2 separate regions of the Homo sapiens genome follow, and region 1 is linked to region 2. A link means that fine-mapping ties the variant in region 2 to the expression of a gene that starts in the linked region. Tissue or cell type: breast. Region 2 holds a variant in brackets; the other region holds the start of a gene. All regions are shown on one strand. Distances are from middle to middle.

Region 1 (4,752 bases), 580 kb after region 2:
AGGCTGACGCAGGTGGATTGCCTGAGCTCAGGAGTTTGCAACCAGCCTAGTCAACATGTTGAAACCCAGTCTCTACTAAAAATACAAAAATTAGCTAGGTGTGGTGGCAGGTGCCTCTAGTCCCAGCTACTCGGGAGGCTGAGGCAGGAGAATCCTTGAACCCAGGAGGTGAGTTTGCAGTGAGCTGAGATCATGCTGCTGCAGTCCAGCCTGGGTGACAGAGTGAGACTCTGTCTCAAAAAAAGAAAAAACAAAACAAAAAAGGACTTTGGGGTTTCTGGCCGGGTGCAGTGGCTCATGCCTGTAATTCCAGCACTTTGGGAGGTTGAGGCAGGTGGATCACTTGAGGTCAGGAGTTTGAGACCAGCCTGGCCAACATGGCAAAACCTGGTCTCTACTAAAAATACAAAAATTAGCCAGGCGTGGAGTAAGCCTGTAATCCCAGCTATTCAGAAGGCTGAGGCAGGAGAATCCCTTGAACCTGGGAGGTGGAGGTTGCAGTGAGCTGAGATGGTGCCACTGCACTGCAGCCTGGGTGATAGAGCAAGACTCTGTCTCAAAAATGAGCAAACAAAACTTTGGGATTTTTTATCCATATATCATCCCAATCTTCCGGATTTATGTTTGGAATGACTGCAAGAGACCAAGCATTAAGTTAATGACTTCTATATGCTATGTCCTGTTCTGAGCATTTATTATCTTAATGATCAAGGACTCTATGAAGTTGATACTATTATGATTATTATTATTATGACTATTATTGTTGCTATTTTTAGAGACGGACTCTTAGTCTGTCACCCAGGCTGGAGTGCAGTGGCATGATCATAGCTCACTGTAACCTTAACTCCTGGGTTCAAGCGATCCTCCTGCCTCAGCCTCTGAGTAGCTAGGAATACAGATGTGTGCTACCATGCCCAGCTAATTTTTATTTTATTTTTGTAGAGATGGGGGTCTCACTATGTTGCCCAGGCTGGTCTTGAACTCCTGGGCTCAAGCAGTCCTCCTGCTTCAGCTTCCCAAATTGCTGGGATTGTAGGCACAAGCCACCACACCCAGCCTAAGGTTGATACTACTCTTTTCTTTATTTATTTATTTTTCTGAGTGGCAGTTGGACCCACAGCTAGAACTTATTTGGCAGATTAATAACATACAGGCATTACTGGATCACAAATTCATTTTTAAAATATTTTGATAGCTATTCAATACTTGTTTCCTCTCTTATGAATTCCTTTTTTTTTTTTTTTTTTTTTGAAACAGAGTCTCCATCTGTCATCCAAGCTGGAGTGCAGTGGCGTGACCTTGGCTCACTGCACTCTCCTCCACTCAGGTTCAAGTGATTCTCCTGCCTCAGCCTCCAAGTAGATGGGATTATAGGCACCCACCACCATGCCTGGCTAATTTTTGTATTTTTAGTAGAGACTGGGATTTTGCCAGGCTGGTCTCGAACTCCTGCCCTCAGGTGATCCATCCACCTCGGCCAGTCAAAGTGCTGGGATTACAGGCATGAGCCACTGCACCCAGCCGATACTACTATATCCCCATTTTACAGATGAGCACATGGGCAAATTGAGGGTAAGGCACTGACCCATGATCATACAGCTGAGAAGTGGCAAAGGCAGGATTTGAACCTAGAACCTCTGGCTCCACACACTAGTAATCTAAACCACTCTCCCTACAATACAACATACGTGGTAAAGATGTGTGGTGGGCACGCAATCAACGTAGGTCCCTTCACAGTTGCTGGGAGAGGCAGGAATTTGCAGTTCCTCCGCGTTCTCCTCCTCCGCTGCCCACCTGTCCTGGGTCATTCCTGCAGCCTGCCCTGCCCTGCCTGGTCTCACCCTCCCTCTGCCAACAGAAGTCTGGGCAGGGTTTTATGGGCTCTGATAAGGCCCTGGCAGGGCCGAAGTTCATGAGCACTTCCTCTTTGCAGGAGGGCGTAGGGGAGGGGACCCAGGTGATTTGGGTCCTGGCTGGTCACCAGGGAAGCTGGCAAGGGAAGGGAGACTAGGGTGCGCTCTAGGAGAAGCCGACAGCCTGAGAGTCCCAGAAGAGGAGCCCTGTGGACCCTCCCCTGCCAGCCACTCCCTTACCCTGGGTATAAGAGCCACCACCGCCTGCCATCCGCCACCATCTCCCACTCCTGCAGCTCTTCTCACAGGACCAGCCACTAGCGCAGCCTCGAGCGATGGCCTATGTCCCCGCACCGGGCTACCAGCCCACCTACAACCCGGTGAGATGCCAGCTCAGGCCCCACTCCGCCCGCAGCTCCGTCCATAAGCCCTCACACCAATTTTCCCCACTCTGATCCTGGGGGGCCCCATCTGACTCTGTGGTCTGATTTACCCAAAGCTGACCCCGACCCTCGATTTACTCCTACCCTGACCTCAGGCTGTCTGTGTCCACGTCTAACTGTTGGCCCTCGTCATCTTCAACCTGGTCCTCCCCCATGGTTTCCTCTCTCCTGCTTAAGGGACTGGGGGGCTTTTCTGGGAGGGGTAAAGGCTGCAACAGGCAGATGGCTTGTGAGTCCCCTCACCAGGCCTCTTCTCCAGACGCTGCCTTACTACCAGCCCATCCCGGGCGGGCTCAACGTGGGAATGTCTGTTTACATCCAAGGAGTGGCCAGCGAGCACATGAAGCGGTAAGACCCTCCCCAAGCCAGGCCGGGCTGGCAGGGGACTTCCAACTGGGTGCTCTGGGCCTGGCTGTTGGGGGCTTTCTGCCCTTACCCCACCCTGGTGGAGAGGGGACTCTTTTTCTGCCCCACCCAATAGCCAGAGATGAATCTGGGGCAGATCAGGAGTGGGGACGTGGGGGCCAGAAGGTTCAGGGAGGGCTCACCGTGAGAGGCAGTCCCTGAGTTGGACATTAGACTGAAGCTGATGGGTGCAATGGCAGGAATTCAGATCACAGGCTCAGAGCCGGGTCCCCGAGTTAAAATCCCAGCTCTGCCACTCCCCAGCTCTGTGTTGGTGAAAGAGTGAAAGTGACTATACCTCTCTGTGCTTCATTTTCTTTTCTTTTCTGTTTTTGTTTTTTTTGTTTTTTTTTTTGTTTTGAGATGGAGTTTTGCTCTTGTCGCCCAGGCTGGAGTGCAATGGCATGATCTTGGCTCACTGCAACCTCTGTCTCCCAGGTTCAAGCGATTCTCCTGCCTCAGCCTCTTGAGTAGCTGGGATTACAGGCATGTGCCAGCACACTGGCTAATTTTTGTATTTTTAGTAGAGATGGGGTTTCACCATGTTGGTCAGGCTGGTCTCGAACTCCTGACCTCAAGTGATCCTCCCATCTCGGCCTCCCAAAGTGCTGGGATTACAGGCGTGAGCCACTGCGCCTGGCCCAGTCTTAGCTTTTTAAAAAGGGCCTTAACACGTTGATAATGATTGGCCTCATAGGACTTTTTTTTTCCTTAGAGATAGGGTCTTGCTCTGTTGCCCAAGCTGGAGTGCAGTGGCACAATATTATAGCTCACTTCGGCCTCCAACTCCTGGGCTAAAGTGATCCTCCTACCTCATCTTTCCAAGCAGATGGGACTACAGACATGTGCCACCATGCCCAACTAATTTAATTTTTAATTTTTATTTATTATTATTATTTGTTTTGTAGAGACAAAGTCTTGTTATGTTGCCCAGGCTGGTCTTGAACTCCTGTGCTCAAGCGATCCTCTAGCCTCGGCCTCCTAAAGTGCTGGGAGGATCAGGCACTGGTATGAGCCACTCTGCCCAGCCTGTTGTTTATTTATTTATTGTTTACTTCTTCACTGAGTGCCTATTCTGTGTCCTGGCACTAGGGATGGAGGAGTGAACAGGACAGAGACCCCTGCCCTCGTGGAGCTGATGTCCTAGTAGGGGAAACATAAAAAATAAGTCCAGGCCGGGCGCGGTAGCTCAGGCCTGTAATCCCAGCACTTTAGGAGGCCTAGGCAGGCAGATCACCTGAGATCGGGAGTTCAAGACCAGCCTGACCAAAATGGAGAAACCCTGTCTCTACTAAAAATACAAAATTACCAGGGCGTGGTGGCGCATGCCTGTAATCCCAGCTACTCAGGAGGCTGAGGCAGGAGAATCACTTGAACCTGGGAAGTGGAGGTTTCGGTGAGCCGAGATCGTGCCATTGCACTACAGCCTGGGCAACAAGAGTGAGACTCTGTCTCAAAAAAAAAAAAAAAAAAAGTCAAATATGTAAGATGTCAGATGATATTAAGTGCTATGAAGAAAATGAGGAGGGAAGGGAGATGGGGAGTGTATGTGCGGACAGAGGTTCCCTTTAAATTGTCCCCTTAAATAGGGTGGCCTGGCCGGGCATGGTGGCTTACGCCTGTAATCCCAGCACTTTGGGTGGCTAAGCCAGGCAGATCACCTGAGGTCAGGAGCTCGAGACTAGCCTGGCCAAAATGGCAAAATCGCATCTGGCTGGGCGTGGTGGCTCACGTCTGTAATCCCAGCACTTTGGGAGGCAGAGACGGGCGGATCACGAGGTCAGGAGATCGAGACCATCCTGGCTAACACAGTGAAACCCCGTCTCTACTAAAAATACAAAAAATTAGCTGGGCATGGTGGCGGGTGCCTGTAGTCCCAGCTACTCGGGAGGCTGAGGCAGGAGAATGGCGTGAAACCAGGAGGCGGAGCTTGCAGTGAGCCAAGATTGCGCCACTGCACTCCAGCCTGGGCGAAAGAGCGAGACTCCATCTCAAAAAAAAAAAAAAAAAAAAAAAAAAGGCGAAATCTCATCTCTGCTGAAAATACAAAA
Region 2 (7,478 bases):
CTGGCCAACATGGTGAAACCCCATCTCTACTAAAAATACAAAAATTTGCTGGGCGTGGTGGTGCGTGCCTGTAGTCCCAGCTACTCAGGAGGCTGAGGCAAGAGAATCGCTTGAACCTGGGAGGCCAAGGTTGCAGTGAGCTGAAGTCGCGCCACTGTACTCTAGCCTGGCGACAGAGTGAGACTCTGTCTCAAAAAAAAAAAAAAAAAAAAAAAAAAGGCCGGGTGCAGTGGCTCATGCTTGTAATCCTAGCACTTTAGGAGACTGAGGCGGGTGGATCACTTGAGGCCAGGAGTTCAAGACCAGCCTGGCCAAAATGGTGAAACCCCATCTCTACTAAAAATACAAAAATTAGCCAGGCGTGGTATGCCTATAGTCCCAGTTACTTGGGAGGCTGAGGCACCAGAATCGCTTGAAACTGGGAGGAGGAGATTGCAGTGAGCCTAGATCGTGCCACTGCACTCCAGCCTGGGTGATGGTGAGACTGTCCTCCCCCACACCCCCCCACCAAAAAAACCAGTCCAAAATAATGATGATACTACAGTACACATTTGCCATATGCCTGGTATCATGTTAAGCAGTTTACACGCATAATCTAAGTTTTCCTGGAAACTCCGTTTTCCTAAGGAGGAACCCAGAGGTCAGAGGTAGAGATTGATGGTGCATCTGACTCCAGAGGCTGTATTCTTAGTCACTTACCCTCCTCTCAACTCCTGCCCCTCTTCTCTTCTTTGTTTCAGACTTGGTCAGATGTGCTGTCTAGCAGTAGCCTTCCCTAAGCCACTCTCTCCCTATCCCCACCCTGGGCTTCCACACTGAGATTTCCCCATCCCAGCCCTGATCCCTCTGCCTGTGCCTCCTCAATCATAACCCTAACCACTCTGGCCTAGGCTTCTCCCATCACAGCACTGACCACTCTGAGCTGTCACTGTTTAGGGGTGTGCTTATTATTCCACTCAACTGAAAGCTCTGCAAGGGCAAGGATCAGAGCAACCCTGTGTCCTCAGTGTTGGTGGAAGCACAGGTCTGGCCCACAGGAGGTCCCCAGTTGAGTGTGAGTTGACTGACTGACTGTTTCTGAAGACCCCAGAGACTGGGACACGGCTGTTGTTACCCCGTGTCCAGAAGGCTTCTTACCAGGCACAGCTCCAGCTGGTCACAGAGTGCATAGAACTCTTCCAGGCACTTGTCAAAGCGCTGTATGGGTCCATCACTGCTCTTTCTACAGACAAGGAAAAAAGGATGTCTGAAGAATTGATTTCTAATCTTTGGGACACCAGTATCTACCCAACCAAGTGTCCATCAGGAAACCAGGTACAGGTCCAGGAGATCTGAAGTAGTGGTTGAAAACCGGAGGGGTTCAAAAAAAAAGAAAAGGAGGCTGGGCACGGTGGCTCACGCCTGTAATCCCAGCACTTTGGGAGTCCGAGGCGAGCAGATCACCTGAGGTCAGGAGTTCAAGACCAGCCTGGACAACATGGTGAAACCCCATCTCTACTAAAAATACAAAAATTAGCCAGATGTGCTGGCACG[C/T]GCCTGTAGTCCCAGCTACTTGGGAGGCCGAGGCAGGAGAATCATTTGAACCCGGGAGGCAGAGGTTGCAGTGAGCTGAGACTACACCACTGCACTCCAGCCTGGGCGACAGAGCAAGACTCTGTCTCAAAAAAAAAAAAAAAAAAAAAAAAAAAAAAAAGAAAAGAAAGAAAGAAAGAAAGAAAAGGAAAAGGCTGGGCATGATGGTTCATGCCTGTCATCCCAGCACTTTGGGAGGCCAAGGTGGAAGGACTGTTTGAACCCAGGAGTTTGAGACCAGCCTGGACAACGTGGCAAGACCCTGTCTCTACAAAACAACAACAAAAATAAAATAAAATAGGAGAAGTGATTCGTGAGGCTGAGGGGATGGCTAGAGGCCAGGAGTTTGAGACCAGCCTGGGAAACATAGCAAGACTCCGTCTCTATAAAAAAATCTTACAAATTAGCCAGGCATCTGTAGTCTGTAGCCATGTCTGTAGTCCTGGCTACTTGGGAGGCTGAGGCAAGAGGATCTCCTAACTCAGGTGTTCAAGGCTGCAATGAGCCAAGATCGTGCCACTGTAGTCCAGCCTGGGTGACAGAGGGAGACCCTGTCTCAAAAAAAAAAAAAAAAAAAAGTAAATATAGAAGGTGAGGTGGGCGGGGAGCAGGAGAAGGAAAGATGAATTTCAAAGACTGGGAAGGCAATAGAATATCCTGGTAAAGGGGGCTGCACTCACTGTCCATTGTCGATGTTAGTGTTCTGAATCAAGTTTTGGGCCGCAACCTTCATCAAGGTCTAGTCAAAACAAAAACAAAACACGTGGGAAATGGAAAAACAAAAGGGAATACCTCTGGCAGATCTACACTCTTTCTTGAGATCACTCAGTCTCAGGTTTTCTTTTCAACTGGCACCTTCCCTCCTGACTTTCCAAAGTAATATTCGTTTCCATTCCTATAGCTGTCACCACTCCATCCTCCCAGAGGCCCGCTCTCACCTGAGCTTCTCGCCAATAACCTAAGGGTCCTCCCTCACCTATCAATCAAGGGCAGAATCTCCGTATAAGCCAGTACTCTCCTCAGGCTTTAACGACCAGAGCCCAGTTTCTCCTTTAAACAACCCCTCACTCAAGCTCCGGCCAGTCCCAGCCTCAGCATCAGCGCTGATCCCATCTCTGCCGAGCTTCGCTTAGGTCTCGCAGAAAACAACAGTTTTATTTATTTATTTATTTATTTTTTTGACGGAGTCTCGCTCTGTTGCCCAGGCTGGAGTGCAATGGCACGATGTCGGCTCACTGCAACCTCCGCCTCCTGGGTTCAAGCGATTCTCCTGCCTCAGCTTCCCGAGTAGCTGTAATTACAGGCGCGCGCCACCATGCCCGGCTAATTTTTGTATTTTTAGTAGAGACGAGGTTTCACCAGGCTGGTCTTGAACTCCTGACCTCAAGTGATCCGCCCGCCTCGGCCTCCCAAAGTGCTGGGAACACAGGCGTGCACCAGCCAGGCCAAAACAGCAGGTTCTATTCCTCTTTCTGCTTAGCGCTCTCTCCGACTAACCTGGCCCTCGGCCTGCCCCTCTAGACTACCAAATCCAGTTTGCTTCTCGCTGCTTAAGGCCAATCACCTGTAGACTCTCCTTCAGCTGCGGGATGAGCATCTTATAACGCTGCACAGGATCGAAGTCCTGTTGCTGTTGCTGCAGGAGGCCGCTCTGGGCAGGGCCCACCAGTTGTGCTGGCGGTTGCGGCTGCTGCTGGGGACCCGGGCCGCCAGCCGAACTAGGACCCGATACACCAGCAGCTGAGGAAGCCGCTGAAGCTTGCTGCTGGGATGCAGCCATCTTCCTCGCGTAGACCGCCGGAAGTGCGTTACGACTGCGTCTCTCCCCGTTGCTTTTCAGCATCCCTATTTCTAGTCCCCGTTTGCTAGTTAGTCCCGCCCCCTAGGCAATTAAGCCAATGGAGGGGAAGGAGGTGCCCCAACGTTACGTCACTCTCAAATCTGCGTCCAGACTGAGATATCTCTCCACCAATCACAGAAGCACCTCTCTCCCTCGCTCCGCCCTTCACCCAGACGCTCGCCAATCCGTGTGTGGTTCCGAGCCGGACTTCATTTCCCCGAAGGCGTCGCGGCCTGAGGAGACCCGTTGGGTCCTCAGCGTCTTGGCGGCAGTTGGTGGAACCGGAGCTTCGAGTCCGTCCCCGGTGCTGCCTGCGCGTTCACCTGAGTCTCGCTGGAGCTCTTCTCGCCCGCCCACCTCATCTCAACCCACTTTCCGCGGGGAGCGGCGCCAAGCTGGGCCTTCCTCGGATCAGGCGTCCCCTGAAGTCGGCACGCCCCTCTGCGTCCCCCTTCGGTCCCGCTAGGACCCCGTCCGGGCTGCCGTCGCCTCGTCGCTATGGCGCCCACCATCCAGACCCAGGCCCAGCGGGAGGATGGCCACAGGTAGGCGCCACGCTTTTCTGTTGCAGCAAGGCGGGGGATCGGGAGAGGGTTTCTGCTGAACAACGTCACCAGCCCCCAGGTCTGCCCGTGACGTCATGAAGCGCTCACCTTTGACGAAGGGGGCGGGTTCCTTCTGAGATTCAGGTGTTCCCCTCCTCCCCGCCGTGCAGTTCAGGGATTAGGCTTTTGGAGACTCCCTCCAGAAGGGATCCCTCCAGTCAACCGTTTGGAGACCCCTCTTCCGAAGACGATTGAGTACATGGTTCTTTATTAAAGCACTTGAAGCCATCTCCTGCAAAAGGGATTGAGCACTTGGCCTTGTTCATTAAAGCTTTTGGGGGCATTTCTTCCTAAATAAATTGAACATTTGTCTCCTTCCATTAAAGCATTTGGACACTCCCCACACCACCACCCAAAGAAACCAGCATTTGTCACCCCTCCTACCTTTTGAAAGGTTGGGGAAGCCTTTTTCATTCTCCTGTCAATCCCGTCCTCTCCACCTATCACTGTTTCTTTCTTCTCCACTAGGCCCAATTCCCACCGGACTCTGCCTGAGAGGTGAGCCCCACTGTGCTTTCCCAGGAGCGGTGGGGCAGTGGGGCTGGGAGCAGAGGTGGGGCAGCGGGGGCCCACTTTTGAGCCACTAATGTTCCTAGGTCTGGAGTGGTCTGCCGAGTCAAGTACTGCAATAGCCTCCCTGATATCCCCTTCGACCCCAAGTTCATCACCTACCCCTTCGACCAGAACAGGTGAGACTAAGGAATGGGAAAACTACTCAGGTATGAGTTCCTTGAAGGCAGGGACTGCTTGTCTCGTTGGCTGCTGTCTGCTCAGGGCCTAGCACAGTACCTACCCTAGCACATAGTAGTAGCTGCTCAATTGTTAATGGAGCAAGCAGTGTCCAAGTCCCTTCCCACTGGGGAGCCAGCTTTCAGACTCTGCCATGGGGGACACTTCATTCTGAGTTCCTCCCCAGAGAAGCTCCGCCTCTGGGAAGCAGGGCTGTGAGGGGTGAAGCTGGAATCCAAACACCACAATAGGTGTTTCCCCACCCAGGTTCGTCCAGTACAAAGCCACTTCCTTGGAGAAACAGCACAAACATGACCTCCTGACTGAGCCAGACCTGGGGGTCACCATCGATCTCATCAATCCTGACACCTACCGCATCGACCCCAATGGTGTGTGGGGAGACAGGGAGGGTCTGCTCTAGGTCAGCAAAGGCTCAGGCCTGGGCCTCCCTCATGGTCCTCCTGCCCCCCGCTCTCCTCTAGTTCTTCTAGATCCAGCTGATGAGAAACTTTTGGAAGAGGAGATTCAGGCCCCCACCAGCTCCAAGAGGTGAGTGGGTAGCAAATGGGTACTGGAGACTGGCTCAGGTGGGCCCTACAAGCAGGAGGGCAGTGGGGTCCTGAGATACCTGATTTCCCACCCCAGATCCCAGCAGCACGCGAAGGTGGTGCCATGGATGCGAAAGACAGAGTACATCTCCACTGAGTTCAACCGTTATGGCATCTCCAATGAGAAGCCTGAGGTCAAGTAAGTTACTAACAGGAAGAGAGGGAAGGTGGAGATATTAGGTGTGTCCAGTGGCCCCTAAGGACCTTTTTCTTCATTCCTAGGATTGGGGTTTCTGTGAAGCAGCAGTTTACCGAGGAAGAAATATACAAAGACAGGGATAGCCAGATCACAGCCATTGAGAAGACTTTTGAGGATGCCCAGAAATCAGTAATTGAGGGACTGGGATGGGGAGAGGCAAGGGTGCGGCTGCAGAGCTCCTCCTCACCTTGTTTTTGTTCCACCAGATCTCACAGCATTACAGCAAACCCCGAGTCACACCGGTGGAGGTCATGCCTGTCTTCCCAGACTTTAAGGTCAGGCCCAAGGTGGGAGGTAGAAAGGGACAGCCTATTTGTGCCTGTTCCCATCTAACCCCAGTGCCTCCATCTCCCTAGATGTGGATCAATCCATGTGCTCAGGTGATCTTTGACTCAGACCCAGCCCCCAAGGACACGAGTGGTGCAGCTGCGTTGGAGATGATGTCTCAGGCCATGATTAGGTAGGTGGTCCTGCTGTCCACCTTGGCCTGCTCCTTGCTGCCTCTTGTCCTCACACTTCATTGCTACTCCTTTTCCCCCAACCAGGGGCATGATGGATGAGGAAGGGAACCAGTTTGTGGCCTATTTCCTGCCTGTAGAAGAGACGTTGAAGAAACGAAAGCGGGACCAGGAGGAGGAGATGGACTATGCACCAGATGATGTGTGCGTGGGTTGCGGTTAAGTTTTGGGGATTGGGAAGTTTTGGGGATTGGGATAGGGAAGAAATGGGGCTGAACCTGTGCCCTCATCTTCAGGTATGACTACAAAATTGCTCGGGAGTACAACTGGAACGTGAAGAACAAAGCTAGCAAGGGCTATGAGGAAAACTACTTCTTCATCTTCCGAGAGGGTGACGGGGTTTACTACAATGAGTTGGAAACCAGGTACTCAGCACACTCCTATCTGATTAGCCTGGATCTGTGCTTCTTAAGACCCTGGGGCATGCAAGAGCCACCTTGGAGGTCATTTGTACCTAAGAATTTGTCATATGCATTGGTAAACAAGAGCAGCAGATGTCTGGTCATGCACATGAGCTGGACTTGGTTCTAACAGGAGGAGCCAGAAAAAAAATCTTTTTTTTTGAGATGGAGTCTCGCTCTGTTGCCCAGGCCAGAGTGCAGTGGTGTGATCTCAGCCCACTGCAACCTCCGCTTCCTGGGTTCAAGTGATTCTCCTGCCTCAGCCTCCTGAGTAGCTGGCATCACAGGCGTGTGCCAGCATGGCCAGCTAATTTTTTTTGTATTTTTAATAGAGATGGGGTTTCACCATGCTGGCCAGGCTGGTCTTGAACTCCTGACCTCAGGTGATCTGCCTGCCTCGGCCTCCCAAAGTGCTGGGATTACAGGTGTGAGCCACCACGCCCAGCCAGAATATCTTAATGCAGGAGACATTTAGAGCCTTTGCGCAAGGCAGAGGGCCAAGTTTCCCAGTATTAGTAACAGACTTCATGTGAAAGTAAACATTGCCAAAGTATGGAGTAATATATAAAATTAGCATGAATGTTTTAAATGAAATGCTTAAACCCATGTTCAAAAATGTGACTCCAAAACTCTTCCCTTATGGCTCAAAGTTTACTGCTATGCCAGCACCTCTGGTGTAGAGTTGGGAAGTCTTGAGTTTCTGTTTAAAGCAGAGATTACAAGAACTGTGACCCCATAGGCCAGGCAGGAAATGTAAAAGAGCAGTGGCTGGTAGCATCTGAGTGACCTGGAGTTCTGGGCAACCATGGAGGGCACTATTCACTTCCAGCCCACTGTTGCTGTGCTGTGGGGCCAGAAATTCCTATCTTCCAAAAGCCCCAAATCCAAATGATTTGACATCTCCTGGTTTCTCAAAGTGTTGGTAACTAACTGACACATACAGTAATGCACTGCATGTTTCAGTCAACAATGGACTGCTTATGGTGGTCCCTTAAGATAGAATACC

The links. PIP is the estimated chance that this variant, and not a neighbour inherited with it, causes the effect.
Region 1: it holds the start of LGALS4, and the variant in region 2 is fine-mapped to the expression of LGALS4 in breast (GTEx, PIP 0.97).

Annotation. Positions count from the first base shown.
Region 1 is chr19:38,810,323-38,815,074 of GRCh38, reverse strand. LGALS4 (galectin 4) reads left to right here and starts at 2,130. Exons shown (of 10, transcript NM_006149.4): 1 at 2,130-2,233; 2 at 2,556-2,644. The coding sequence starts at 2,189.
Region 2 is chr19:39,387,297-39,394,774 of GRCh38, reverse strand. PAF1 (PAF1 component of Paf1/RNA polymerase II complex) reads left to right here and starts at 3,669. Exons shown (of 14, transcript NM_019088.4): 1 at 3,669-3,957; 2 at 4,486-4,515; 3 at 4,614-4,706; 4 at 5,014-5,135; 5 at 5,229-5,295; 6 at 5,392-5,493; 7 at 5,577-5,682; 8 at 5,760-5,828; 9 at 5,910-6,013; 10 at 6,099-6,215; 11 at 6,308-6,436. The coding sequence starts at 3,911. MED29 (mediator complex subunit 29) reads right to left here and starts at 3,397. Exons shown (of 4, transcript NM_017592.4): 1 at 3,137-3,397; 2 at 2,253-2,311; 3 at 1,138-1,222. The coding sequence starts at 3,352. It also overlaps a transcript of SAMD4B not described here. RefSeq lists an enhancer at 3,053-3,342 and a silencer at 4,880-5,011. The variant C/T (reference allele first, on the strand shown) is at 1,534.